Linked DNA regions of Homo sapiens. The protein of the gene in region 1 purifies or fractionates together with the protein of each later gene. This does not show direct contact. Each region holds a gene or a part of one and is shown in the gene's direction. Other genes may lie near its edges.

Region 1 (3,500 bases):
ACGTGGGGTGGAGGTGACAGCTCTGAGAGCAGGATCAGCTAAGCAGGTGGGAAACAGGTGGGAGCAGAGAGAGCAAGGACTGTGGGCAAGTGCCTTTACTAGTGATCTCAGTGCAGTTCACAGCTCAGTGCAGTTCACAGTGCGTTGCATTGGTGCATTGGTAGGTCGTGGTCAGAAGAAGACAGAGAGGTGAACTTGTGGTAGGGGCCAACCTTATCAAACTTGTGCACCTGGTTACCTGGGTGGGGTGTTCACAGTTAGCGTATGTGGGAATGAATGTTGAGGCAGCAAGAGGCAGCAGGAGACAACATGTGAAGTTTTGAAACTTTGTAGTACAACCCTTCTCAGTGTTTTTGGTTTAGAATTTATTGTTTCCATAATCACTTAAGGAGCCTAAAAGCTTAAGAATGATGTACATGGTATCCGATGGATAATAAAGACTAAAGAGAGCTATAACTATACTTATTAAAATGCCATGATTGTGAGACCCTGCCAAGTCTTTTGCATTCTACCAACAAAATATTTTCATGCTATACTAAATCATTAGCTGATGACAAATGCTTCAGGAAATAATTTCACTATTTATAAAGGTTTTACATTTAGTACAACTTCTAAATGCCAAATATGATGTTGTAGTTGCTCTACCCTAATCTCCCTCCGCCATCCCCTGGGTCAAATTGTATATAGTAGTAATGAATATGGAGAAGCTGTCTGTAATACTCGTGAAGAACCCACAGCTCCATGGAGGTTTACTTGGATACTTAGGACACTGAAGGACCTCTAGGCAGTGTTTTCTGCCTTTTTTTGAATTATGATATATATAAAAAATAGAAATATCTTTTTTATAATTCAAACTAACCTTTCCCCATAGATACTAATGGAAGCAGTTTTATAATGCTGAGAAACATCTCAATATCAAGCTATGTATTAGTCTGTTCTCATGTTGCTAATAAAGGCATACCCGAGACTGGGTAATTTATAAAGGAAAGAGGTGTAATTGACTCACAGTTCTGCATGGCTAGGGAGGGCTCAGGAAACTTACAGTCATGGCAGAAGGGGGATCAAAAATGTCCTTCACATGACGGCAGCAAGGAGAAGTACAGAGCAAAGTGGGGTAAAAGCCCCTTATAAAACCGTCAGCTCTCGTGAGAATTCACTCACTATCACGAGAACAGTGTGGCGGTAACCACCCCTATGATTCAATTACCTCCCACCAGGTCCCTCCCATGACACATGGGGATTGTGGGAACTACAGTTTAAGATGAGATTTGGGTGGGGACACAGCCAAACCGTATCACAGAATAATGCTTGAAAGAAACATAAAGCAGATAGCCTATGCTTTTAAACGTACAGGAAATCGGCTGGGTGCGGTGGCTCATGCCTGCAATCCCAGCACTTTGGGAGGTCGAGGCAGGCAGATCACTTGAGGAGTTTGAGACCAGCTTGGCCAACATGGCAAAACCTCGTCTCTACTAAAAATGGGAAAATTAGCCAGGCTTGGTGATGCACAGCTGTATTTCTGGCTACTCAGGAGGCTGAGGCAGGAGAATTGCTTGCACCTGGGAGGCGGAGGCTACAGTGAGCCAAGATCACACCGTTGCACTCCAGCCTGGGCGACAGAGCGAGACTGTCTCAAAAACAAAACAAAACAAAACAAAAAGTACAGGAAATAATGTCCACAGTGAATGACTCCAGTGAGGAAAGGAGAGAAGGGGAGTCAGGACAGTTATTGTCCATAACAGTGATGGCATCCTGCAGGGGGCATTGTGAAATCCCCTGCCTGCCAGTAGAGGAAGTTCCTTGGTTTTACAATCTGGCTCTGCAATCTGGGAAGAACTCTTGTTCTTTCTTATATATATTTGGCCAGGTCTAAGGAGGGTTAGAGGAAATCTGCCCTCTTTGGGAACGGCATAACTTTTCAGTCAACTTCCTGTTTATTTAAATTTGGGGATTGTTTTACAGTCATAGGGTTTTCACTATCCATGGTAGATTTGAGTAATGAAATTTCTTCATAAACTTAGTAGGCTTCTGGCCAAGTGCGGTAGCTCATGCCTGTAATCCCCGCACTTTGGGAGGCCGAGGTGGGCGGGTCACCTGAGGCCAGGGGTTCAAGACCAGCCTGGACAACATGGTGAAGCCGCTTCTCTACTAAAACTACAAAAATTAGCCAGGCATGGTGGCCTACGCCTGTAGTCCCAGCTACTCGGGAGGCTGAAGCTTGAACCTGGGAGAGTTGCTTGAACCTGGGAGGCAGAGGTTGCAGTGAGCCAGATTGCACCACTGCACTCCAGCCTGAGCAGTAGAGCAAGTCACTGTCTCAAAAAAACAAAAACCAAAAAAAAAAAACCAGAAAAACTTCAACTTAATAGGCTTCTGATGTGTTTTCTTGTGAGTTTCATTTGCCAATTTCTATGATGGAAATTCTTTTTTAGACCTAATTTTCATCCAGTAGACTTGGTTGTGTTACTCTGAACTTAACAAGAGGGCCTGATACTTTGGCTTAACCAAGAAGTCTTAATGGTACTTTGTTGCTCAAAGTCTTTTTCATTTATATTTCCCGTTATTTGCTTCAGGGACTCAGGATGACCCTGGATCGGTTCTGCCATCTGTAACATATGGTTTTCAAGGTTGCCAAAGGGAAAGAATATGTTTGAACAAGCATGGGAGATGTTCATAAGCCAGGCCTGGAAGAGGAATATGGTAGACAGAATGCTACGATTGTTGGTGACTCTTGCTCTTGTGTACTCTCCTCCCCTTTGAGTGTGGGTGCAATGTTCAATTTGAAAAGATGTTATTCCTGAGACTTTTAACTTTGTAAGACAAAAGGGAGATTATATGATTGGACTTAATCTAATCTCATGAGCCCTTTAAAAGCAGGATATTTTCTCTGGCTGGTAGTGGAAGGAAAAATCAGAGAGATTGGAAGTATGAGCAGGACTGGACATGCTGTTGTTGGTTTAAAGAGGGAGGGGCCATGTGAGTAGTAATGCAGGCAGCCTCTAGGAGCAGAAATCAGCTCTTTGGTGACCATCAGCAGGGAAAATAGGGATCTTAGACCCACAGCCTTGAAGAATCTGAGAGGAAGGGAATTCTTCCCCCAAGCTTCCAGATAAGAGCCCAGTCTAGCCAACGCCTTCATTTTGGCCTTGTGAGGCCCTCAACAGGGAGCTCACTTAAGCAGGCCCAGACTTCTAATTTATAGAATTGTAAGATAATAAATGGGTATTGTTTTAAGCTGCTAAATTTGTGGTAATTTGTTATACAACAGCTGAAAATGAAGAGAAGGAATAGTTCCTTCTGTTTATGTTTGGTTGGCTGGAACTTGTAACATGGCCCCTCTGTGGTACACCTAAGAGAAATGGAAGAAGGCAAGTGTAGCCTAGCTATGTGCCCAGGATGTAAAAGTGGGTTTTTGGTTAAAAAGCTAGCAGTTTTGCTATTACTGGTGCCTATAATTAATTAATTGTGTGTCTGTATATTAATCTATTTGTGAGCTTGTA
Region 2 (3,500 bases), on another chromosome or scaffold:
ATTTTATCAGGTTTCTAGGTATTCCTTAATTCTGCCAAGTTGACACCTAAAATTAAGTTCACAAGTCCACCACTTGTCAGCCTAGTGTTCATATACATCTCCTCAAACTATATGTTATTTCCAAATAAAAGCAGTAACAAGGTGATGGTTCCACCTAACATGATGCAGGCCAATGTGATGAGACCATCCTGCATGCAAGTGAAATGCCAACCCCTTTTCCAGAATTCAGCTTTCAGGATTTCAACATTCAGAATTTTAATCTTTCAGGATTGTAATTTTGGGGATTTTGGACCTTAGCAATTTAGATCCTCATCAAACTAGTTGATTTTGAATCCCTACTTTTCAACATCAGTGTTATTCATTATTCTCCAGAGGAAATTATCAAAAATCTTTTAAAAACTAGAATATAAGTCCTATGCTTTATCAAAATTATGAATAATTAAAATGCAGAGTCAATACATTCATTTTTTGTATTTTTCAAACTAAGTGAATTAATATTAACATTTCATGAAACAGATACACATATAGCTCAACTCCAAACTGTCCATGAATTTATCTAATAAACAGAGAAAATGCTGCTTATAAGCAAGTCACAATTCTGATCTTACAGTTAGCTGAGCTATTAAGAAATTGTTGGAATAAGAACTGGGATAATAAAATGTTTTTGTTCAAATAAATTACCATGAATATACAATTGTATGATTAATTGCAAAAAAGGATTGTCAAAGGGAAATCCGATTAAAATAATTCAACTGATCTAAGTTGCATTCCATTAACATCATTTCCCTGATTAAACTCTTCAATATTTCCCAATGAGCTGCAGGCATACATATGTAATATTACATATAATCACCTTTTTGCTTAAATAAAATTATATTCTGTAATAATCTATGTCTCACTATGATTATGTCATCTTCTAACTATATAACTTTCCACAGCAATGCCAGGACACAAATATCTACCTGTTTTACTAGCCGCATAATATTCCATTGTAAGAGTATTCCATAATATATTTAACCAATCCCTTGTCAATGAATAGTTTTAATATATCTCGGGATTTTTTTGCTATAACAACATTTCTGAGTGAACATACTTGAGTAGACCTCTTTGTACATTTTTATGACTCTATCTGAAAGACACATTCCTAAATGTGGCATTCCTGAGACAAGTGTTTCTTAATACATTTTTATAGATACAGATTTAAAGTTCTATAGATATAGATACATTATCCTTCGTGGTGATTATCCCGCTAGTCCCACCAAAAGTATTCAACACTACCATTAATACTACGGATGGAAAATTGTTTTTCACTGTCTGGATTTGCATCTTTAAACTGTGGGGTTGAGTATCATTTCATATGTTTAAAAGTCATTAATGTCTAATTTTTCTTTGATTGAACTACTACATCAATGTTTTAGATTATTCATCTTTCATCTTTCCTTTTTTGCCAAAACTCTATTATATTAAAGACATTGGATAATTTTCTATCGTGCAATTTACAAATATTGTTTCTCAATTGTTATTTTGACTTTTTTGCTCTATGCAAAAATTTTAAAGGAATATGCAACAGTTACATATATTTTCCTTTCTGGCTTCTGAATTTTGGGTCTTATTATATTAAGGCCAAATCCCATTATTTGGGTTTTGTCAAATAAAATACTGGAAAACAATTGACTTTCCAAAGCAGAAAAAATTATTTTTTTAAATGTTATTTGTGTTATGAAGTTGCTTACCAAATTATTTTCTACATGGATTTCAAGGGCAAACCACTGCCCATTTCTTTGTAATTAATAGCATCCAAACTAATCAATATTCCCAAATTTTAATTTCTCAGCAATGCTTATTTTCTGACAGCTCACAGCAATTTTTTCAAAAAGAGGTGGAACTTGGGCTAGTTTCTGCTTCAGATGCTGTTTCTCCAGAAATGTGTCATATCTCTTTGATGAATTCTTAACTTTCTTTTCTAAATCCCCAATATACATTTTCCATTATGAAAGATCACTCAATTGTCATCAGACTTCAATGATATTATCTCAAAAATGATGATTATGTGTTTACTTACACACAACAGGATAGGGAAACAAGAAGTGCATTCAGGTTTAATAATTGCTTCTTCATCAACCCATGTCTGCCACCAGGCAGAGACCTTGTTTTAATCATCATTGAACGTCCAGAACACCTAATTAAGAGAAGCTGCTCAATAGATATGTGAGCACAAAGTGAAAGAATGAATGACTGAACAAACTGGGATTTCATCTTTCTGAGCCTTAGTTCCTTCTACAAAACAAAAAGTTTGGCAGAAAGAATAGTAAGATAATAGATTTGATAGTGGTTTGAAAAACAAAACATTCAGAAAAGTGGTATTTTCTCCCATAATTTTGTCTTCTTATTGATGTATTAATTTGTATGTCTATTCCAGAAATCTCTTTATGCTTTGGAAAGTCTTATGCATAATTTTGGCTTTTTCAGTTCAATATGCATTTAATAAGCAAATATTCTTGTGTAAGATATGGAATATTGGAAATGCTGATTATGTAATACTGATTACAAGTATGAAATAAAATAGAGGCAAGAGGAAAATAATTCTCATCTAGGGAGAGTATACTGGCTATTAAGTATTATTATATTATCTTTATTTTCACCATCCTCAGTGTTATTGTGAAAAAGGCTTAGAGCTTCCATGAGGAAAGGCACTGTTAACTATAAAAGTCACACATTCAATATTATACATTCTATGCTTTCTTCTATAATTGTGTCCTCTCACTAATTTACTAATTTTTATGTCTATTCCAGGAATCCCTTGATGTTTTAGAAAGTGTTGTTTGTAATTTTGGTTTATTTAATTCAATTTATCAGTATTATGCTAAGTTTCATGGATTGATGAGATATATAGGTAGATAGGTAGGTAGATAGATACTCATATCTGGATAAGGACATATTTAAAACATTACTGGACTTCAAGTTCATTGCCAGCCTGAAAGGTCCTTTTGAATCCTCCATTTGAAGGTCTTGCTTTTTACATGGGGAATTGAGGCAGGTAGACACAGTAATCATGCAGGGGAAGGGAGATTTGGGAGAAAATAATGTGGTTTAAAAGGAGAAACAACATTATGTATTTTAAACCAATGTTTATATTATGTTTGTTAATTTTATTCTATTTCCTTGCAGGTTTAAATGTTTATTTGCTACTTGGCTACTGATTAGAGAACGCAAAATGAATAACTCAACAAACTCCTCTAACAATAGCCTGGCTCTTACAAGTCCTTATAAGACATTTGAAGTGGTGTTTATTGTCCTGGTGGCTGGATCCCTCAGTTTGGTGACCATTATCGGGAACATCCTAGTCATGGTTTCCATTAAAGTCAACCGCCACCTCCAGACCGTCAACAATTACTTTTTATTCAGCTTGGCCTGTGCTGACCTTATCATAGGTGTTTTCTCCATGAACTTGTACACCCTCTACACTGTGATTGGTTACTGGCCTTTGGGACCTGTGGTGT
Region 3 (2,819 bases), on another chromosome or scaffold:
TCTGGGGCTGATGCTGAGTCTGGTCCCAAGGGTGCAGGGGCCAAGGACAGGACCCCCAGGGAGCTCACAGCTGGTAGGGGGTGGTAAACAGGCAGCCTAGCAGAGAGTGAGGGTTCAGGTTGGTCCCAGGGAGCTTCTGAGGCTCTCACTGAGTGTGGCAGGGCACCAGTCCGGGACCCCAGTGGGGAGGGTTAGAGGAAGGGAGGGGAAAGAGGGAGGGAGGGAGGACAGGAGGGGAAAGGAGGAGCATTGCTGCTGAGGGAAGGGCCCACATAGGGGCCCACAGGCTACGGGGGCGCACCCAGCCCAATATTCCTTCCGCCCCGCCCCTGACCAGCCTGCCCTTCTGCAGGTCTCATACCGGGCCCAGCAGGGTGACACGCGGCGGGCAGTGCGGAAGATGCTGCTGGTGTGGGTGCTGGCCTTCCTGCTGTACGGACCAGCCATCCTGAGCTGGGAGTACCTGTCCGGGGGCAGCTCCATCCCCGAGGGCCACTGCTATGCCGAGTTCTTCTACAACTGGTACTTCCTCATCACGGCTTCCACCCTGGAGTTCTTTACGCCCTTCCTCAGCGTCACCTTCTTTAACCTCAGCATCTACCTGAACATCCAGAGGCGCACCCGCCTCCGGCTGGATGGGGCTCGAGAGGCAGCCGGCCCCGAGCCCCCTCCCGAGGCCCAGCCCTCACCACCCCCACCGCCTGGCTGCTGGGGCTGCTGGCAGAAGGGGCACGGGGAGGCCATGCCGCTGCACAGGTATGGGGTGGGTGAGGCGGCCGTAGGCGCTGAGGCCGGGGAGGCGACCCTCGGGGGTGGCGGTGGGGGCGGCTCCGTGGCTTCACCCACCTCCAGCTCCGGCAGCTCCTCGAGGGGCACTGAGAGGCCGCGCTCACTCAAGAGGGGCTCCAAGCCGTCGGCGTCCTCGGCCTCGCTGGAGAAGCGCATGAAGATGGTGTCCCAGAGCTTCACCCAGCGCTTTCGGCTGTCTCGGGACAGGAAAGTGGCCAAGTCGCTGGCCGTCATCGTGAGCATCTTTGGGCTCTGCTGGGCCCCATACACGCTGCTGATGATCATCCGGGCCGCCTGCCATGGCCACTGCGTCCCTGACTACTGGTACGAAACCTCCTTCTGGCTCCTGTGGGCCAACTCGGCTGTCAACCCTGTCCTCTACCCTCTGTGCCACCACAGCTTCCGCCGGGCCTTCACCAAGCTGCTCTGCCCCCAGAAGCTCAAAATCCAGCCCCACAGCTCCCTGGAGCACTGCTGGAAGTGAGTGGCCCACCAGAGCCTCCCTCAGCCACGCCTCTCTCAGCCCAGGTCTCCTGGGCATCTGGCCCTGCTGCCCCCTACCCGGCTCGTTCCCCCAGGGGTGAGCCCCGCCGTGTCTGTGGCCCTCTCTTAATGCCACGGCAGCCACCCTGCCATGGAGGCGCCTTCCTGGGTTGGCCAGAGGGCCCCTCACTGGCTGGACTGGAGGCTGGGTGGCCGGCCCTGCCCCCCACATTCTGGCTCCACCGGGAGGGACAGTCTGGAGGTCCCAGACATGCTGCCCACCCCCTGCTGGTGCCCACCCTTCGCAGTTACTGGTTGGTGTTCTTCCCAAAGCAAGCACCTGGGTGTGCTCCAGGCTTCCTGCCCTAGCAGTTTGCCTCTGCACGTGCACACACCTGCACACCCCTGCACACACCTGCACACCGTCCCTCTCCCCGGACAAGCCCAGGACACTGCCTTTGCTGCCTTCTGTCTCTTGCATAAGCCTCAGGCCTGGCCCTTTCACCCCTCTTCCCACCAACTCTCTCTGCCCCCAAAAGTGTCAAGGGGCCCTAGGAACCTCGAAGCTGTTCTCTGCTTTTCCATTCTGGGTGTTTTCAGAAAGATGAAGAAGAAAACATGTCTGTGAACTTGATGTTCCTGGGATGTTTAATCAAGAGAGACAAAATTGCTGAGGAGCTCAGGGCTGGATTGGCAGGTGTGGGCTCCCACGCCCTCCTCCCTCCGCTAAGGCTTCCGGCTGAGCTGTGCCAGCTGCTTCTGCCCACCCCGCCTCTGGGCTCACACCAGCCCTGGTGGCCAAGCCTGCCCCGGCCACTCTGTTTGCTCACCCAGGACCTCTGGGGGTTGTTGGGAGGAGGGGGCCCGGCTGGGCCCGAGGGTCCCAAGGCGTGCAGGGGCGGTCCAGAGGAGGTGCCCGGGCAGGGGCCGCTTCGCCATGTGCTGTGCACCCGTGCCACGCGCTCTGCATGCTCCTCTGCCTGTGCCCGCTGCGCTGCCCTGCAAACCGTGAGGTCACAATAAAGTGTATTTTTTTATTGGTGCTGATTCCTGAGGACTTTGTGGGGTGCTCAGAGCCTTCGTGCTTTGAGGAGAGACTCCAGGGAGTCCAGAAACCACTGAGAAGCAGGCGTGAGGATGAGGGCTCTGTGTTTTCTTCTAAGTCGGGGGACTGCAGTGGGGATGAAAGACCAGCCTGCCACACCAGGGTTTAATCCCAAGAAGGGTTTCATGTGCCCTACCGCCAGACCCCTGCACTTCTCAAGACCTGGCTGGCGGGTGAGGAGATGCAGCCCACGCCCTGCACAGGAGGGGCCCGCTCTGGCCCTGAGAACACAGACATGCAGCCTTCCTGCCCCCAGGACAGGTGCCTCATCTTTCTTGGTCAGGAGCAGGGTTGCACCCCAGCAAAACTTGGGACCCAGGGAGGATCATGGCCATGCCCAGCGTGTGCAGGGTCTGGGTGGCAAAGGGACTGCAGTGACCAGAGGGGAGGGATTGGGCTAGCTGGCTGGAGCTAGGCTGGAGGGGCTGCTAGAAGGGATGAG
Region 4 (4,199 bases), on another chromosome or scaffold:
CTAATTTTTTTTTTTTTTTTTTGTATTTTTAGTAGAGACAGGGTTTCTCCTTGTTGTTCAGGCTGGTCTTGAACTCCTGACCTCAGGTGATCTGCCCACCTCGACCTCCCAAAGTGCTGGGATTACAGGCGTGAGCCACCGCGCCCACCTGTTGATTCATCCATTTTTAATATGTCTTTATAGCAGAAAGATTTTAAGAGAAGGGGCTATCTAGAAAATCTCTAGGTGGAAAGGTGCATGGAAGGGGCAGTGCAGAGTGGGGAAGATGGAGAAATTGAAATTCTTCAGCATCCCAGACTACATAGTGCCAAATCCAAATGCAAATCCAGAGCTAGCAATGAAAAAGACTCCTGGCCGGGCGCGATGGCTCACGCCTGTAATCCCAGCACTTTGGGAGGCCGAGGCGGGCGGATCACGAGGTCAGGAGATCGAGACCATCCTGGCCAACATGGTGAAACCCCGTCTCTACTAAAAATATAAAAATTAGTTGGGCATGCTGGCGGGTGCCTGCAGTCCCAGCTACTTGGGAGGCTGAGGCAGGAGAAGCGCTTGAACCCGGGAGGTGGAGATTGCAGTGAGCAGACATCACATCATTGCACTCCAGCCTCCAGCCTGGGTGACAGAGCGAGACGCCGTCTCAAAAAAAAAAAAAAAAAGAAAAGAAAAAGAAAAAGACTCCTGAGCCTCCTAGTGGTTCACGCCTGCAATTCCAACTACTCAGGAGGCTGGGACAGGAGGGTGGCTTGAGCCCGGGAGTTCAAAGCCAGCCTGGGAAAAATAGAGAGAGAGAGAGACTTGAAATATGGTAAATTTCCTCAGTACCTGAAAATATTAAAAAAAACAAAAAGCTAGAAGGAAAGAGAAGGTAACTGAAACAGAAGGGAAAGGGGACAGATCTCACCAAGCTGAGGTCTTGGGAGAGGAGATACTGGCTGAGCCCTATTACTTAATTTAAAATACCTTAGGGGAGGCCACCCAAGTGGATGCGGGGCTCCTGTGAATCCTTTGCTTGACTCCAGCGGGTTACCTTTGCCTCTGATACATAAAGGGTGGGGATGGGAGCGCTCTCCTCTCTCCTTCCCCTGCCTTGCTGTGGGAACTTCTGGGAAAGGAGGTGCAGGGCTCCAGGAAGCCAGTGCCCAGGGAGTGCTATGCTGAGTCCAGGAGCCTGGCCACGGCAGGGGTGGACAGATGGTGGCAGAGGAACCACGGTGTCCCTTCCTCCAGATTTAGCTAAAGGAAACGTGGAGCATCCCATTGGCCATCCTCCCCACTCTCCAATTCGGCTCCAGAGGCCCCTCCAGACTATAGGCAGCTGCCCCTTTAAGCGTCGCTACTCCTCCCCCAAGAGCGGTGGCACCGAGGGAGTTGGGGTGGGGGGAGGCTGAGCGCTCTGGCTGGGACAGCTAGAGAAGATGGCCCAGGCTGGGGAAGTCGCTCTCATGCCTTGCTGTCCCCTCCCCTGAGCCAGGTGATTTGGGAGACCCCCTCCTTCCTTCTTTCCCTACCGCCCCACGCGCGACCCGGGGATGGCTCCGTGGCCTCACGAGAACAGCTCTCTTGCCCCATGGCCGGACCTCCCCACCCTGGCGCCCAATACCGCCAACACCAGTGGGCTGCCAGGGGTTCCGTGGGAGGCGGCCCTAGCCGGGGCCCTGCTGGCGCTGGCGGTGCTGGCCACCGTGGGAGGCAACCTGCTGGTCATCGTGGCCATCGCCTGGACTCCGAGACTCCAGACCATGACCAACGTGTTCGTGACTTCGCTGGCCGCAGCCGACCTGGTGATGGGACTCCTGGTGGTGCCGCCGGCGGCCACCTTGGCGCTGACTGGCCACTGGCCGTTGGGCGCCACTGGCTGCGAGCTGTGGACCTCGGTGGACGTGCTGTGTGTGACCGCCAGCATCGAAACCCTGTGCGCCCTGGCCGTGGACCGCTACCTGGCTGTGACCAACCCGCTGCGTTACGGCGCACTGGTCACCAAGCGCTGCGCCCGGACAGCTGTGGTCCTGGTGTGGGTCGTGTCGGCCGCGGTGTCGTTTGCGCCCATCATGAGCCAGTGGTGGCGCGTAGGGGCCGACGCCGAGGCGCAGCGCTGCCACTCCAACCCGCGCTGCTGTGCCTTCGCCTCCAACATGCCCTACGTGCTGCTGTCCTCCTCCGTCTCCTTCTACCTTCCTCTTCTCGTGATGCTCTTCGTCTACGCGCGGGTTTTCGTGGTGGCTACGCGCCAGCTGCGCTTGCTGCGCGGGGAGCTGGGCCGCTTTCCGCCCGAGGAGTCTCCGCCGGCGCCGTCGCGCTCTCTGGCCCCGGCCCCGGTGGGGACGTGCGCTCCGCCCGAAGGGGTGCCCGCCTGCGGCCGGCGGCCCGCGCGCCTCCTGCCTCTCCGGGAACACCGGGCCCTGTGCACCTTGGGTCTCATCATGGGCACCTTCACTCTCTGCTGGTTGCCCTTCTTTCTGGCCAACGTGCTGCGCGCCCTGGGGGGCCCCTCTCTAGTCCCGGGCCCGGCTTTCCTTGCCCTGAACTGGCTAGGTTATGCCAATTCTGCCTTCAACCCGCTCATCTACTGCCGCAGCCCGGACTTTCGCAGCGCCTTCCGCCGTCTTCTGTGCCGCTGCGGCCGTCGCCTGCCTCCGGAGCCCTGCGCCGCCGCCCGCCCGGCCCTCTTCCCCTCGGGCGTTCCTGCGGCCCGGAGCAGCCCAGCGCAGCCCAGGCTTTGCCAACGGCTCGACGGGTAGGTAACCGGGGCAGAGGGACCGGCGGCTCAGGGTCGGGAAGCATGCGATGTGTCCGTGGGTCAACTTTTTGAGTGTGGAGTTTATTAAGAGAAGGTGGGATGGCTTTGCTTGGAGAGAAAAGGGAACGAGGAGTAGCGAACCAAAATGGGACCCAGGGTCCTTTTCTTTCCGGATCCAGTCACTAGGGTAGAAGCAAAGGAGGGCGAGCGGGCCGTCGTTCCTCACCCAAGGACCCAAGGTGCGCCACCGGAAAGCGCTGCGGTGTCCCGAGGACTCTCGCCTCGCCTGGTCGGCTTTAGGGATTTTTTTTTTTTTTAAATAGAGACAGGGTTTCGTCTCTGTCGCCCACGCGGGAATGCAGTGGCGCGATCTCAGCTCACTGCAGTCTTGAACTCCTGGCTCCTGGGCTCAAGCGATCCTCCCACCTCAGCCTCCTGAGTATCTGGGACTACAGGCGAGCCCCACCAATCCCAGCTATTTTTAAAATTTCTTGTAGAGATGGGGTCTTGCTATGTTGCCCAGGCTTGTCTTGAACTTCTGGCCTCAAGTGATCCTTCTGCCTCAGCCTTCCAAAGCATTAGGATTACAGGCCGGAGCCAGGGCGCCGGGTCGGCTCTAGTTTTGGTTTTCCAGCTCAGTTCTTTGCCCCCCTCCCCCGATTTCTTGCCATCACTAGACCTGGCTCGGACTTGAAGGCAGGGCTAGTGCCCCCCCACCCGCCCCCCAAGCCCTCGGCCTCAGTTCTGGGTTTTCTCAAAGGTTTGACAGCTGTGGAGGTGAGAATCCACTTCCGGTATGAAGTACAGTTGTGAGTGAGGAGCCTGTGAGTGCAGATGTGTGCCCTCCCGCTCCCTGGGCTGGGTTGGAGTAGGGATGGGGTGGGGCGTGTGTGGCTGGGTGGTGCCCTGGCGTTTTTGTGTAACTAAATATGCGTTCCAGGGTCTCTGATCTCTGTCATTCCCCTCAGTGCACCTGTTGCTCCTTTCACCCCAGGGTCTATTATCTCCACTTTTTTTCCCAGGGCTTCTTGGGGAGTTTCTTAGGCCTGAAGGACAAGAAGCAACAACTCTGTTGATCAGAACCTGTGGAAAACCTCTGGCCTCTGTTCAGAATGAGTCCCATGGGATTCCCCGGCTGTGACACTCTACCCTCCAGAACCTGACGACTGGGCCATGTGACCCAAGGAGGGATCCTTACCAAGTGGGTTTTCACCATCCTCTTGCTCTCTGTCTGAGAGATGTTTTCTAAACCCCAGCCTTGAACTTCACTCCTCCCTCAGTGGTAGTGTCCAGGTGCCGTGGAGCAGCAGGCTGGCTTTGGTAGGGGCACCCATCACCCGGCTTGCCTGTGCAGTCAGTGAGTGCTTAGGGCAAAGAGAGCTCCCCTGGTTCCATTCCTTCTGCCACCCAAACCCTGATGAGACCTTAGTGTTCTCCAGGCTCTGTGGCCCAGGCTGAGAGC
Region 5 (3,500 bases), on another chromosome or scaffold:
GCTTCACTTTTCCCAGGGTGGACTTTGGTGGACTTTGGTGGACTTTGTCCAGACTCTGACTGCCACAGCCATGTTTCTACCTCCACTCAGTCACTCATTTATTCCCATTTTTATTTCTCTGTGGTGATCTGACAGGTTAAAGATTTCATAAATTCCGAGCTCCTAGCACAGTTGTATTCTTCAGAGGACCAAAATACCCTGATGGAGGAATCTGCTGAGCAGGCTCAGCGCCGGGATGAGATGCTTCGAATGTATCAAGCACTGAAAGAAGCCCTTGGGATAATTGGGGACATCAGCACAGCCACCGTGTCCACTCCGGCACCCCCTCCAGTGGATGACTCCTGGATACAGCACTCTCGCAGGTAAGAAGATGGCCCCGGCCGGGTGCGGTGGCTCGCTCCTGTAATCCCAGCACTTTGAGAGGCCGAGGCGGGCGGATCACGAGGTCAGGAGATCGAGACCATCCTGGCGAACATAGTGAAACCCTGTCTCTACTAAAAACATAAAAAAAATTAGCCGGGCGTGGTGGCGGGTGCCTGTAGTCCCAGCTACTCGGGAGGCTGAGGCAGGAGAATGGTGTGAACCCGGGAGGCAGAGCTTGCAGTGAGCCGAGATCGTGCACTGCACTCCAGCCTGGGTGACAGAGCAAGACTCCGTCTCAAAAAAAAAAAAGAAGATGGACCCACCCACAACCCCTGAGCCCTGCCACGCTTGTCCAATATCATTTTCTGAGAGTGCTTTCCTAAACCAAGATGGACCTACAGAAAAAGGGGAAAAGATATTTACATTCAGGAGTAAGGATCAGATTATACTAACTCCCTTAAAAATGCAGCACAGTGCATCCTCACAATGGAATGTTATATAGTCACTAAAAAGAACAAGACAGTTCTATTAAGTCCTAAAATGAAAAGATAATCCAGTTAACGGGAAGCTTTAAAAAAAAGGGAGGTTGTATGCCAGGCGCGGTGGCTCACGCCTGTATTCCCAGCACTTTGGGAGGCCGAGGCAAGCGGATCACCTAAGGTCAGGAGTTTGAGACCAGGCTGGCCAACATAGTGAAACCCTGTCCCTACTAAAAATACAAAAATTAGCTGGGGGTGGTGGCGCACACCTGTGATCCCAGCTACTCGGGAGGCTGAGGCAGGAGAATCGCTTGAATTCAGGAGTCAGAGGTTGCAGTGAGCCGAGATCACGCCACTGCACTCCAGCCTGGGTGACAGAGCGAGACTCCGCCTCAAAGAAAAAAAAAAGGAGGTTGTAGAAGACTGTGTTCTATGGTATACAGAAAAGCAATTTATATATAGAGAGAGAAAATATATACTTATACAAATGTAGAATACAGTTAAAAAGGATGCACAAGAAACTTCTATAGTTGTTTCAACAGAGTGAAGGGGTAGGGAGAGGAAAACTTACTTTTCTCCATTTACCCTTTTATCCCTTTGACTTTCATGACATGAATTGGACTTATTCAGTCAAAAAATAATTTTTAAAAAGCAGGAAGTTACAAAACATTTTTAGAGATTAATTCAGACAGAAAGGAGGAGTGAGCAAACTATGATTTCTCTTTTTCCTCAGGTCACCTCCTCCAAGCCCCACAACCCAAAGGAGGCCAACACTAAGTGCTCCCCTCGCAAGGCCCACATCCGGCCGAGGACCAGCTCCTGCCATTCCCTCTCCTGGCCCCCACTCTGGGGCTCCTCCAGTCCCATTCCGTCCAGGCCCATTACCTCCTTTCCCCAGCAGCAGTGACTCCTTCGGAGCCCCTCCACAAGTTCCATCTAGGCCTACGAGGGCCCCGCCCAGTGTCCCAAGGTAAGGCATGGAGCAGAAATTGGGGGGGTAGTGCGCCTTGGTTCTCTTCTCATAGAATGACAGACAAAATTTATTTGAAAGAGAAAATTGCAAAGATCTTATCGTACGTGTTTGCAGTTTTCACAATGAACAGAGACTATAGGAAAATTGCCAACCCTGTTATGCCATTTAAAAATCACTTGTGATCATTGAAATTTCTCATTTATCAATTGGCACAGACTAAATAGGACTAAAGAACACTCCGTCCCAATGAATGACATTTTGGCAGCTATTGGGAGAATTTGAGGGCTTTGAAACAAAAGAGCTATGGAGGATTGTAGCAAGCTGTGTGTTCTATAGGTCATGAGAGTTCCATGGACTAAAGTCTTGCCTTCTCCATTATCAAAAGAATTCTTGAAAACCACTGACTTAGAGAATTTTATCCATCTGCCTTCTGAACTGTGATCCTTATACTCAATTTTACCAATTTTCATATAGGCTGAATAAATCTGGCTGATTGATCTGCAATTGTTTTTTTAAAAACTACACATAGAAATTTTAATATAGGCATGATTGTTGTATACAGTCACTAATCATATATAAGATAGATCATTGTACATCTGAATAATACGTGTTGACAATTATAAGTGGATTTTCAGGCTTAATTGTGAAACAATATAGCTAATAAATAATGGACCTAGAAACACACATAGTTGGAGCTGTAGTCTCACCTTCATATACTTACAGTCAAAATATACACAATGAATAGAATCAGAGATTTTTAAGGTATAAAGTACTAAGGTTTTTTTCCCCCTCAAAATCAGAAATATAAAGAGGAAAGAAAATTAGCCCATATATAAAGTTAATTTTTAAAAAATTCAATTCAGAGAATTAAAATATTTATATACTCCATGAAGGAATATCTGACTGTATATGAACCATAAAAACAGATGTGACTTCTACCCATCCCTGAAGCCTGAGCCACCTTGCCAACTGATTATGGCACTTACGTTTTATTTTAATCTTCAAGTTGTTAAGCGTAATGAAGAGAAGAGAAGAAGGGGGATCTTAAGCTAGTACACAGAGGGTGGTACAGCAAGAATAGGCAGGAGATTTGCAGTCAGAAGACCTGGGTTACTGAAGGTCTTGGGCAACTCATTTAACTCTGAGACGGGAGTTCTTTATCTATGAAACAGGGAGAACTCAATAAGGTTGTTCCCCAGATCATATGACATGAGGTATTTGAAAGAGTTTGATACACTGTAAAGACTACAGTTGTTACCACTGTTATCATTTTGGTCCTAAGCAAAGAGGATATATACACACTCTCAATCCAATTTTTTTTCTCTAAATTCAATAGACTTGGCTTATAAATTATTTGGAATGGTGCTAAATTTCTAGTAATAGCAGTACTAGCAATAGCCAACATTTATTGTGCCCTCAATATTACTAGGCATTGCCCTAAGAACTTTGTATATACATTTTTGTTTAAAGCTCACAACAAATAGGTTGTTATCCACATTTTACAGATGAGGCAGTGAGGTTAAACAGCTTGCCCAAGGCTGCTCAGCCAGTCCCTAGTGGAGCTGGACTTTAATCCCATGCAGTCTGCTTCCAAAGCCATTTCCTGACCATGACCCCAGGGTTTTTCAGCCTCATCAGTACTGACGTTTTTGTTGTGGAGGGCTGTCCTGTGTATTGTAAGATGT
Region 6 (3,500 bases), on another chromosome or scaffold:
TACTCCTGCCTCACTTGGCTCCAGCCTCACCAGACTCCCTCCTATGACTTCTATGTGCTAGCCCTTCCTGCTGGCCCGTGTTGTTCTCACTGCTCAGACTGCTATCACATCTGATAACTGCATGGTCTGCTTCCTGATCTCCTCCAGGTCAAGACTCAATTGCTGATTTCTCCATGAGGAGTTCCTGATTATACTCAGATACTCACTCACATACGCACAATCTTCACCCGTTACTTACCTGCCTCTCTGATTTGTCTCCAATATACGTATCATTATTGAACACACCACATCTTTTATTTATCTTGTTTATTATCTGTCTTCTCCTCTAGAATGGGAGCTTCAAAGGGAAGGAATTAAGATTTTATCTGTTTTGTTCATTGCTCTATCTCCAACTCTCACAACAGTGCCTACTATATAGAAAATGCTCAATAAATATTTGCTGATGCAATAAATAAAAAAATGTAACTAAGCAACCAAGCCCCAAAGAGTCTGATTTTATTAATATTGTTTTCTGTCTCCTCACAGGAAGCCCCTTGGCATCACGCACCTCCCTCTGGGCTATGGCATCTCTGAGCCAGCTGAGTGGCCACCTGAACTACACCTGTGGGGCAGAGAACTCCACAGGTGCCAGCCAGGCCCGCCCACATGCCTACTATGCCCTCTCCTACTGCGCGCTCATCCTGGCCATCGTCTTCGGCAATGGCCTGGTGTGCATGGCTGTGCTGAAGGAGCGGGCCCTGCAGACTACCACCAACTACTTAGTAGTGAGCCTGGCTGTGGCAGACTTGCTGGTGGCCACCTTGGTGATGCCCTGGGTGGTATACCTGGAGGTGAGTAGACTTCAGGTGCATGTTGTCTCTATGACTGTGCTAGTACTTGTCTTCCCTGAGTTCTGGCCTTTGGGGCTCAAAAGACTCCCCAGACAGTCAGGAACTGAGGAAGGAAGGAGAGCTCTCATTCTCCCTGTAATGAGAGAGTTAAAGCTCTGGAAAACAGTCACCATCCTGTCCCTCATCCACATCAGAACCAAGGAGCTGAGAATGATTCTGTTCATGGGTCTCCAGTGTTCAGGTGACTGGATTTGAGTGACGGGACTCTTCCTAATATGGCCTAGAGTTTATTCTCTGTGCCAGACATGTCTCAATGACATGGTGGGCTGGGTGAAGCAGTCCAGAAGACCTCTTCACCAGTGTTTAATGTATATGAGGGTGAGGGTGTGCAGGAGGGATGTGAGGCCAGGAGGAAAAAGGAATTATAGAAAAAAAAAATTAGTGAATGTAAGGGAAGATAGAAAGAATGACCAGCGAACAGATCAGACTTCTTTCGATGGCTCAGTCCCTCTTTGCTCTTTCCTCCTGGGTACCAGTTCTCCATAGACTCTGCTACCAAAGGAACAGACAAAACCCTCAAATGTATATTTTCCATGTGTCCATGAATAGTACAGAGCCTTTGCCAGAGAGATAGTGCAGCAGATCCTGGTGAATTCTTTTGGGGAGAAACATTTATTAAATTTGAAAGTATTTTCAATTGGGAGTGCAAAACAGAGCCAGGGGGTGGTCAAGACAAAACACCCATTTGCTAACAAAGAAATCAGGGTGACCATATCTGTTCAAGAAACAGATATTCTTACCAGGAAAACATGCAATTACTTAAGATATGTTTTTTTAAAAAAACCTGAGTATACTATTAATATTTCTCCTCTGCACTGTGTGTCATTTTAAAGAGGTATCCAATGAAGGATCAAAATGATGCTATGATTAAGAGAAATTAAGATTCATCAAATTAATATCTCAGTTAATATTGATAGTAAAAGTGACAGTTAATTAAGTATGACATATCACGGGAGAGCAAAAACCTTGTACATAGACTGCCTGTGCTAATACCTTTGTTAAAGATGGCTGGGAACTAAAATTAGACTTATGATCTCAAGGGGGAGACATAAAGAGAGAAAAAAAGAAAACAGAGAAATAAAAGGAAAAGAAGAAAAACAACTAGGCTGTGTAGATCTAAAGGCTAAGGGAATACTTGAGGAAAAAATATGCATTTATTCTTCCCAGTTAGGATAATCCTAGTTGGGAGGGTGAAGGGTCTTATAATTATCTTGATTTTTCTGTCAACCCAATTAGTCTGAGTCAACCTTGAAGTCAGAGACTAGATCTTTACTCTTCATCTCCTGTAGCCTAAACATACTACCTGGCACAAAATACATGCTAACTGCTATAACATTTGATATATGAATGATGAAATGAATCTTCTCTGTAATGTATGCATTATATGGGCTATTCCTGCTAATACCATCTGCCTCTCTATCTATTGTTACACTCAGACTTTTTGGGGAGAGGACTTTTGGGGACGAGCTATTTGTTATTTTACATCCAACAATAATGAGCCTGAAAAAATTTCGAAGCATGTGATATTTCTGTTCAAGAATGAGGCGCTTTAGGTGCAACCAGCCAATATGAATTGGTCAATAACTCATAGCACTGTCATCATCTTCCTAAAATGTTTTTGTCCATTTCTATGTGTTCCAAGGAATGTTAAGTCCTCCAGAAGGATGAATGGCAGGAAGAAATGTAGGCAGTGGACCTTCACTCTAATGAGCATTTTTATTCCCTCTAAGATAAAACCAGGCTTTTGGTGTCTGTAACAAAGCCACTCAGGGGCATTTGTTGGCTATGTATTTGTGATTATTTCTAGGACTCTGGTTGGACCATACTGGAAAACATCTGTATGTACTGGTTTAGGAGATAGACATTGTGACTTTTCCACACTAGAAATCCATGGCACCCCTTCTAGCCATACCTTCTGATATACTGGTGCTCCTATTCTACTACTGAGCATAGAAGGGCAGGTGAGACTATAGAAAATGACAGGAAATCTTGCCAAAGGCCTTAAAGAAATCACTGTAGTAGTACATATAGGTTTTCTTCCATGAGAACAGCTCTGATGAAGTTTTTGGTTTCTCCCCATAAAAACCATAATACTATGCCCTCTGTCCAACAGGTTATTTCATGTAGGTATTCAGTGATCAAGATCATAATTTTTACATTTGATCTTAACCAAAAGGCTGAGAAGCAATAAGAGCATGATTTTTAAAATCTATATTCACACAAGGAAGATTCAGGGGAGCAGAGACGTCTCCTCACTGGCTTTAGGACCTCTTTTTGGTCTTACCAATTTGCTTCAAGACCCAGTCAATGTCTTGAAGCGAGTTGGTAAGACCAAAAAGAGGCCCTAAAGCCAGTGAAGAATACAGAGGACCAAGTCTCTCCATCTTACATCAGTCTATACTTTTCTTAATCTCAAATGTTTTCCTATCTTTCCTTAGAGGCAAATGAGGCACCTTAATGAAAGAAAAGAGCACTTTGAGCCCTTAAAATATGGGCTATGAATACATAAATCCATGTTCCTCAAGAAGAAGCAAAGTATTATTCTCACTAACTTGTCCTAATGATAGTACAGTTTGAGTAGCTACTCTACTAATTACTTAATTATACCTA
Region 7 (3,500 bases), on another chromosome or scaffold:
AAATCTGAGATAGGTCTCAGTTAATTTGGAAAGTTTATTTTGCCAAGGTTGAGGACGCACACCCATGACACAGCAACAGGAGGTCCTGACGATGTGCCCAAAGTGGTCAGAGCACAGTTTGGTTTTATACATTCTAGGGAGACATGAGACATCAATCAATATATGCAAGATGAACATTCCTTAGGTCTGGGAAAGGCAGGACAACTGGAAGCCGGGAGGAGGCTTCCAGGTCTTAGGAAGATAAGAGACAGATGGTTGCATTCTTTTGAGTTTCTGATTAGCCTCTCCAAAAGAGGCAATCAGATATGCATTTATCTCAGTGAGCAGAGGTCTGACTTCGAACAGAATGGGAGGCGGGTTTGCCCTAAGCAGTTCCCAACTTGACTTTTCCCTTTACCTTAAGTGATTTTGGGGCCCCAAGTTATTTTCCTTTCACAGCCTACTTTCTTCCTTCCAGAAGTGACTGTGGACAATTCCACAGGGTTTGGACTTGATCAGGGCAGAAGGTGAAGCTGCAAGGTATTAGATGTGGGAATGGAGAAAAATACAGGCTGGAGCTGTGGGTTTGAGTGTTGTCCTCATAGGAGGTGATGGCTGAGGGGTAGGTAAGTGAGAGGATGAGATCCCCGAGGCCGACAGCACAGAGTGACAGGAGCATAGGGCAGGACTTTGGGTCACCCAAGGAGACAGTGATGCTTTTGAAGAAGTCAGAGGAGGCCCCATCAGCAATCAGAGGATTGCTCTGATTGGCACCTCAGAGCTGGAGGACATCAAAAAATACCGCTGTAAGAAAGAGACCTGGAAAAGTCTTTAGAGATTGTCTATCCCACCCTACCCATTTGACACATGAGAAGATGGAGGCCAAGAGATCACTGAGAAAATAAATGGTAGAGCTTGGGCAAAATCAGTGCTGCCCAAAATGGTGTTTTTCCAACAAAGACATTTAAAAGGTTCCTTCCACAAGGATCAAACACCTTGGGGTTTTGATTTTTATCTTAAAAAGTTATATAAATTTAGCCTTCTACAGGCCAGGCACGGTGGCTCACACCTATAATCCCAGCACTTTGGGAGGCTGAGGTGGGTGGATCATGAGGTCAGGAGATCAAAAGGATCCTGGCTGATATGGTGAAACCCCATCTCTACTAAAAATACAAAAATTAGCTGGGCGTGGTGGTGGGCGCATGTAATCCCAGCTACTCAGGAGGCTGAGGCAGGAGAATTACTTGAACCTGGGAGGCAGAGGTTGCAGTGAACCGAGATCGCGCCATTGCACTCCAGTCTGGCGACAGAGCGAGACTCCGTCTCTAAATAAATAAATAAATAAATTTAGCCTTCTACTCAAGAACTTATCTGGCTTTGTCTTAATGTAAAAATAATTTCTTTTTGCTAAATTATTGAGAGAAATTTACTATTTATTAGTGTTTATCAGTTTTCTTTAAACTCACCACTTTTTGATGAATATGAAAATCTAAAAACTTGGCCGGGCGCAGTGGCTCACACCTGTAATCTCAGCACTTTGGGAGGCCAAGGTGGGCGGATCATCTGAGGTCAGGAGTTCAAGATCAGCCTGACCAACATGGTGAAACCCCTTCTCTACTAAAAATACAAAAATTAGCTGGGCGTGGTGGTGGGTGCCTGTAATTGTAGCTACTCGGGAGGCTAAGGCATGAGAATCACTTGAACCCAGAAAGCAGAGGTTGCAGTGAGCTGAGATGGTGCCACTGCACTCCAGCCTGGGCGACAGAGTGAGACTCTGTCCTAAAAAAAAAAAAAAAAAAAATGGCTGGGCGTGGTGCCTCATGCCTGTAATCCCAGCACTTTGGGAGTCCAGCGTGGGTGGATCACCTGAGGTCAGGAGTTCAAGTCCAGCCTGACCAACATGGTGAAACCCCGTCTCTACTAAAAAAATACAAAAAAAATAGCCGGGTGTGGTGGCACACTCCTGTAATCCCAGCTACTCAGGAGGCTGAGGCAGGAGAATCACTTGAATTTGGGAGCTGGAGATTGTAGTGAGCCAAGATGGTGCCATTGCACTCCAGTCTGGGTGACAGAGTGAGACTCCATCTCAAAAAAAAAAAAAAAATCTTAAAAACTCCTTCCAGAAGATTTAATACTTACTTTCACCCAACCACCCGACTTGAGTATCACCAATAACAGAGGATACAGTCCGTTTTCAGTAGAGCCTTAGTAGCAAAGGGTTTTCATTTTTATTTTTCAGATACAGGATCTTGCCCTGTCACCCAAGCTGGAGTGCAGTGATGTGATCATAGCTGACTGCAGCCTCCTGAGTAGCTAGGACTATAGGTGTATTATAGGACAATTTTTAAAAAATTTCATTGTAAAGACAGGATTCCACTGTGTTGCCCAGGCTGCAAGTCTTGGCCTCAAGTGATCATTCCACCTTTAACTCTTGCCCTCAAGCAATCCTCCCACCTCAGACTCCCAAAATGCTGGGATTATGGGTGTGAGCCACCATTTCCAGCCTACTAGCAAGGGTCTTGTTACATATTACTTGGCATGATTTATGTAATTTAAAAAAATTGTTTGTTTTTCAAATAGAAAAGTAAAATAACGAATATGCTTTTCCAATAACATAATCCCCTTCTCACTTGAGAATTTTCCTCTAAAAAGATATGCTAGATTTATTTCATGCTTTATGTGCCTCTGGTGTGTCCCCTTATAACCTCCTCCATATCATTTAGGGATGGTCTCAGCTGCAAGTAAGAACTGCCACAACAGTGATGTAAGCCAAAAAAAAAAAAAAAAAAAAAAGCAAAGCCAAGCAAAACAAAGCCCATTTAATTATTTCCCATAATAATAAGTCTGGGAGAAGAAGATTCCAGAGTTGGCTCAGCAGCTTAGTGACAGCAAGGCCCTAGGCTGGCATTTTCTTGGCCTTCCCGATGGTCCCAAGATGACTCTCATGGCCTCAAACATCACTTCCTCACATCCTGTCAGGGAGAAAGAGGCAAGTGAGCAACAACAATTTTTGTTGTTTTGATCATTTGTCAGAGAGGAAGAACGTTCCTAAAAACTCCGCCTCTGCTGTTTGACATCCTCATCCTATTCCTTGGCCATGGTGGTATCTCATGGTCACTCCTCTATCTGCCACTGTAAAGAGGAACTGGATTGCTATATTCTGCTTAGACACATGAGGATGCAGCCCACCTTCCCAGAACATGTGCGGAATTAGATTTCTACAAACACATTTGTCTTGCTTCTGCCCAACTCTCTCACTAGAATGCACATTCCATAGGGGCAAACATTTTTGTCTATTTTGTTCACAGCTATATTCTCAACACCTAGAAGAGTGACAGAAATTCAATAAATAGTTGTTAAGTGAGCAAATGAATGCATGAATAAGGAAAAGGGTACATGGCTATTGAGTAGGTAACCAGCAGTGTTGATCACCCCCAACAGCATACAACTCCAGTCTGATGAACATCATGCTACTAAGTGGCCACTCATCACCCAAGTCTCTGACCTTACTTTTTCTCTCT

Evidence for each region.
Region 2: the proteins of SH3GL2 (region 1) and CHRM2 purify together in Homo sapiens (pull-down; one study listed by IntAct). This does not show direct contact.
Region 3: the proteins of SH3GL2 (region 1) and HRH3 purify together in Homo sapiens (pull-down; one study listed by IntAct). This does not show direct contact.
Region 4: the proteins of SH3GL2 (region 1) and ADRB3 purify together in Homo sapiens (pull-down; one study listed by IntAct). This does not show direct contact.
Region 5: the proteins of SH3GL2 (region 1) and DNM3 purify together in Homo sapiens (affinity purification with western blotting, with the first as the bait; one study listed by BioGRID). This does not show direct contact.
Region 6: the proteins of SH3GL2 (region 1) and DRD3 purify together in Homo sapiens (pull-down; one study listed by IntAct). This does not show direct contact.
Region 7: the proteins of SH3GL2 (region 1) and HRH1 purify together in Homo sapiens (pull-down; one study listed by IntAct). This does not show direct contact.

What each region holds. Positions count from the first base shown.
Region 1 is NC_000009.12:17,585,566-17,589,065, forward strand, and holds part of SH3GL2 (endophilin-A1), read left to right. Parts: intron 1-3,500. UniProt on the Homo sapiens protein: Implicated in synaptic vesicle endocytosis. May recruit other proteins to membranes with high curvature. Required for BDNF-dependent dendrite outgrowth.
Region 2 is NC_000007.14:137,011,652-137,015,151, forward strand, and holds part of CHRM2 (muscarinic acetylcholine receptor M2), read left to right. Parts: intron 1-3,168; 5' UTR 3,169-3,214; coding exon 3,215-3,500. UniProt on the Homo sapiens protein: The muscarinic acetylcholine receptor mediates various cellular responses, including inhibition of adenylate cyclase, breakdown of phosphoinositides and modulation of potassium channels through the action of G proteins.
Region 3 is NC_000020.11:62,214,460-62,217,278, reverse strand, and holds the end of HRH3 (histamine H3 receptor), read left to right. Parts: intron 1-352; coding exon 353-1,273; 3' UTR 1,274-1,872; coding exon of another isoform or gene 1,873-1,900; 3' UTR 1,901-2,319; downstream 2,320-2,819. UniProt on the Homo sapiens protein: The H3 subclass of histamine receptors could mediate the histamine signals in CNS and peripheral nervous system. Signals through the inhibition of adenylate cyclase and displays high constitutive activity (spontaneous activity in the absence of agonist).
Region 4 is NC_000008.11:37,963,800-37,967,998, reverse strand, and holds the start of ADRB3 (beta-3 adrenergic receptor), read left to right. Parts: upstream 1-1,399; 5' UTR 1,400-1,529; coding exon 1,530-2,734; intron 2,735-3,759; coding exon 3,760-3,781; 3' UTR 3,782-4,199. UniProt on the Homo sapiens protein: Beta-adrenergic receptors mediate the catecholamine-induced activation of adenylate cyclase through the action of G proteins. Beta-3 is involved in the regulation of lipolysis and thermogenesis.
Region 5 is NC_000001.11:172,386,998-172,390,497, forward strand, and holds part of DNM3 (dynamin-3), read left to right. Parts: intron 1-135; coding exon 136-362; intron 363-1,575; coding exon 1,576-1,812; intron 1,813-3,500. UniProt on the Homo sapiens protein: Microtubule-associated force-producing protein involved in producing microtubule bundles and able to bind and hydrolyze GTP. Most probably involved in vesicular trafficking processes, in particular endocytosis.
Region 6 is NC_000003.12:114,169,053-114,172,552, reverse strand, and holds part of DRD3 (D(3) dopamine receptor), read left to right. Parts: intron 1-525; 5' UTR 526-560; coding exon 561-830; intron 831-3,500. UniProt on the Homo sapiens protein: Dopamine receptor whose activity is mediated by G proteins which inhibit adenylyl cyclase. Promotes cell proliferation.
Region 7 is NC_000003.12:11,255,493-11,258,992, forward strand, and holds part of HRH1 (histamine H1 receptor), read left to right. Parts: intron 1-3,500. UniProt on the Homo sapiens protein: G-protein-coupled receptor for histamine, a biogenic amine that functions as an immune modulator and a neurotransmitter.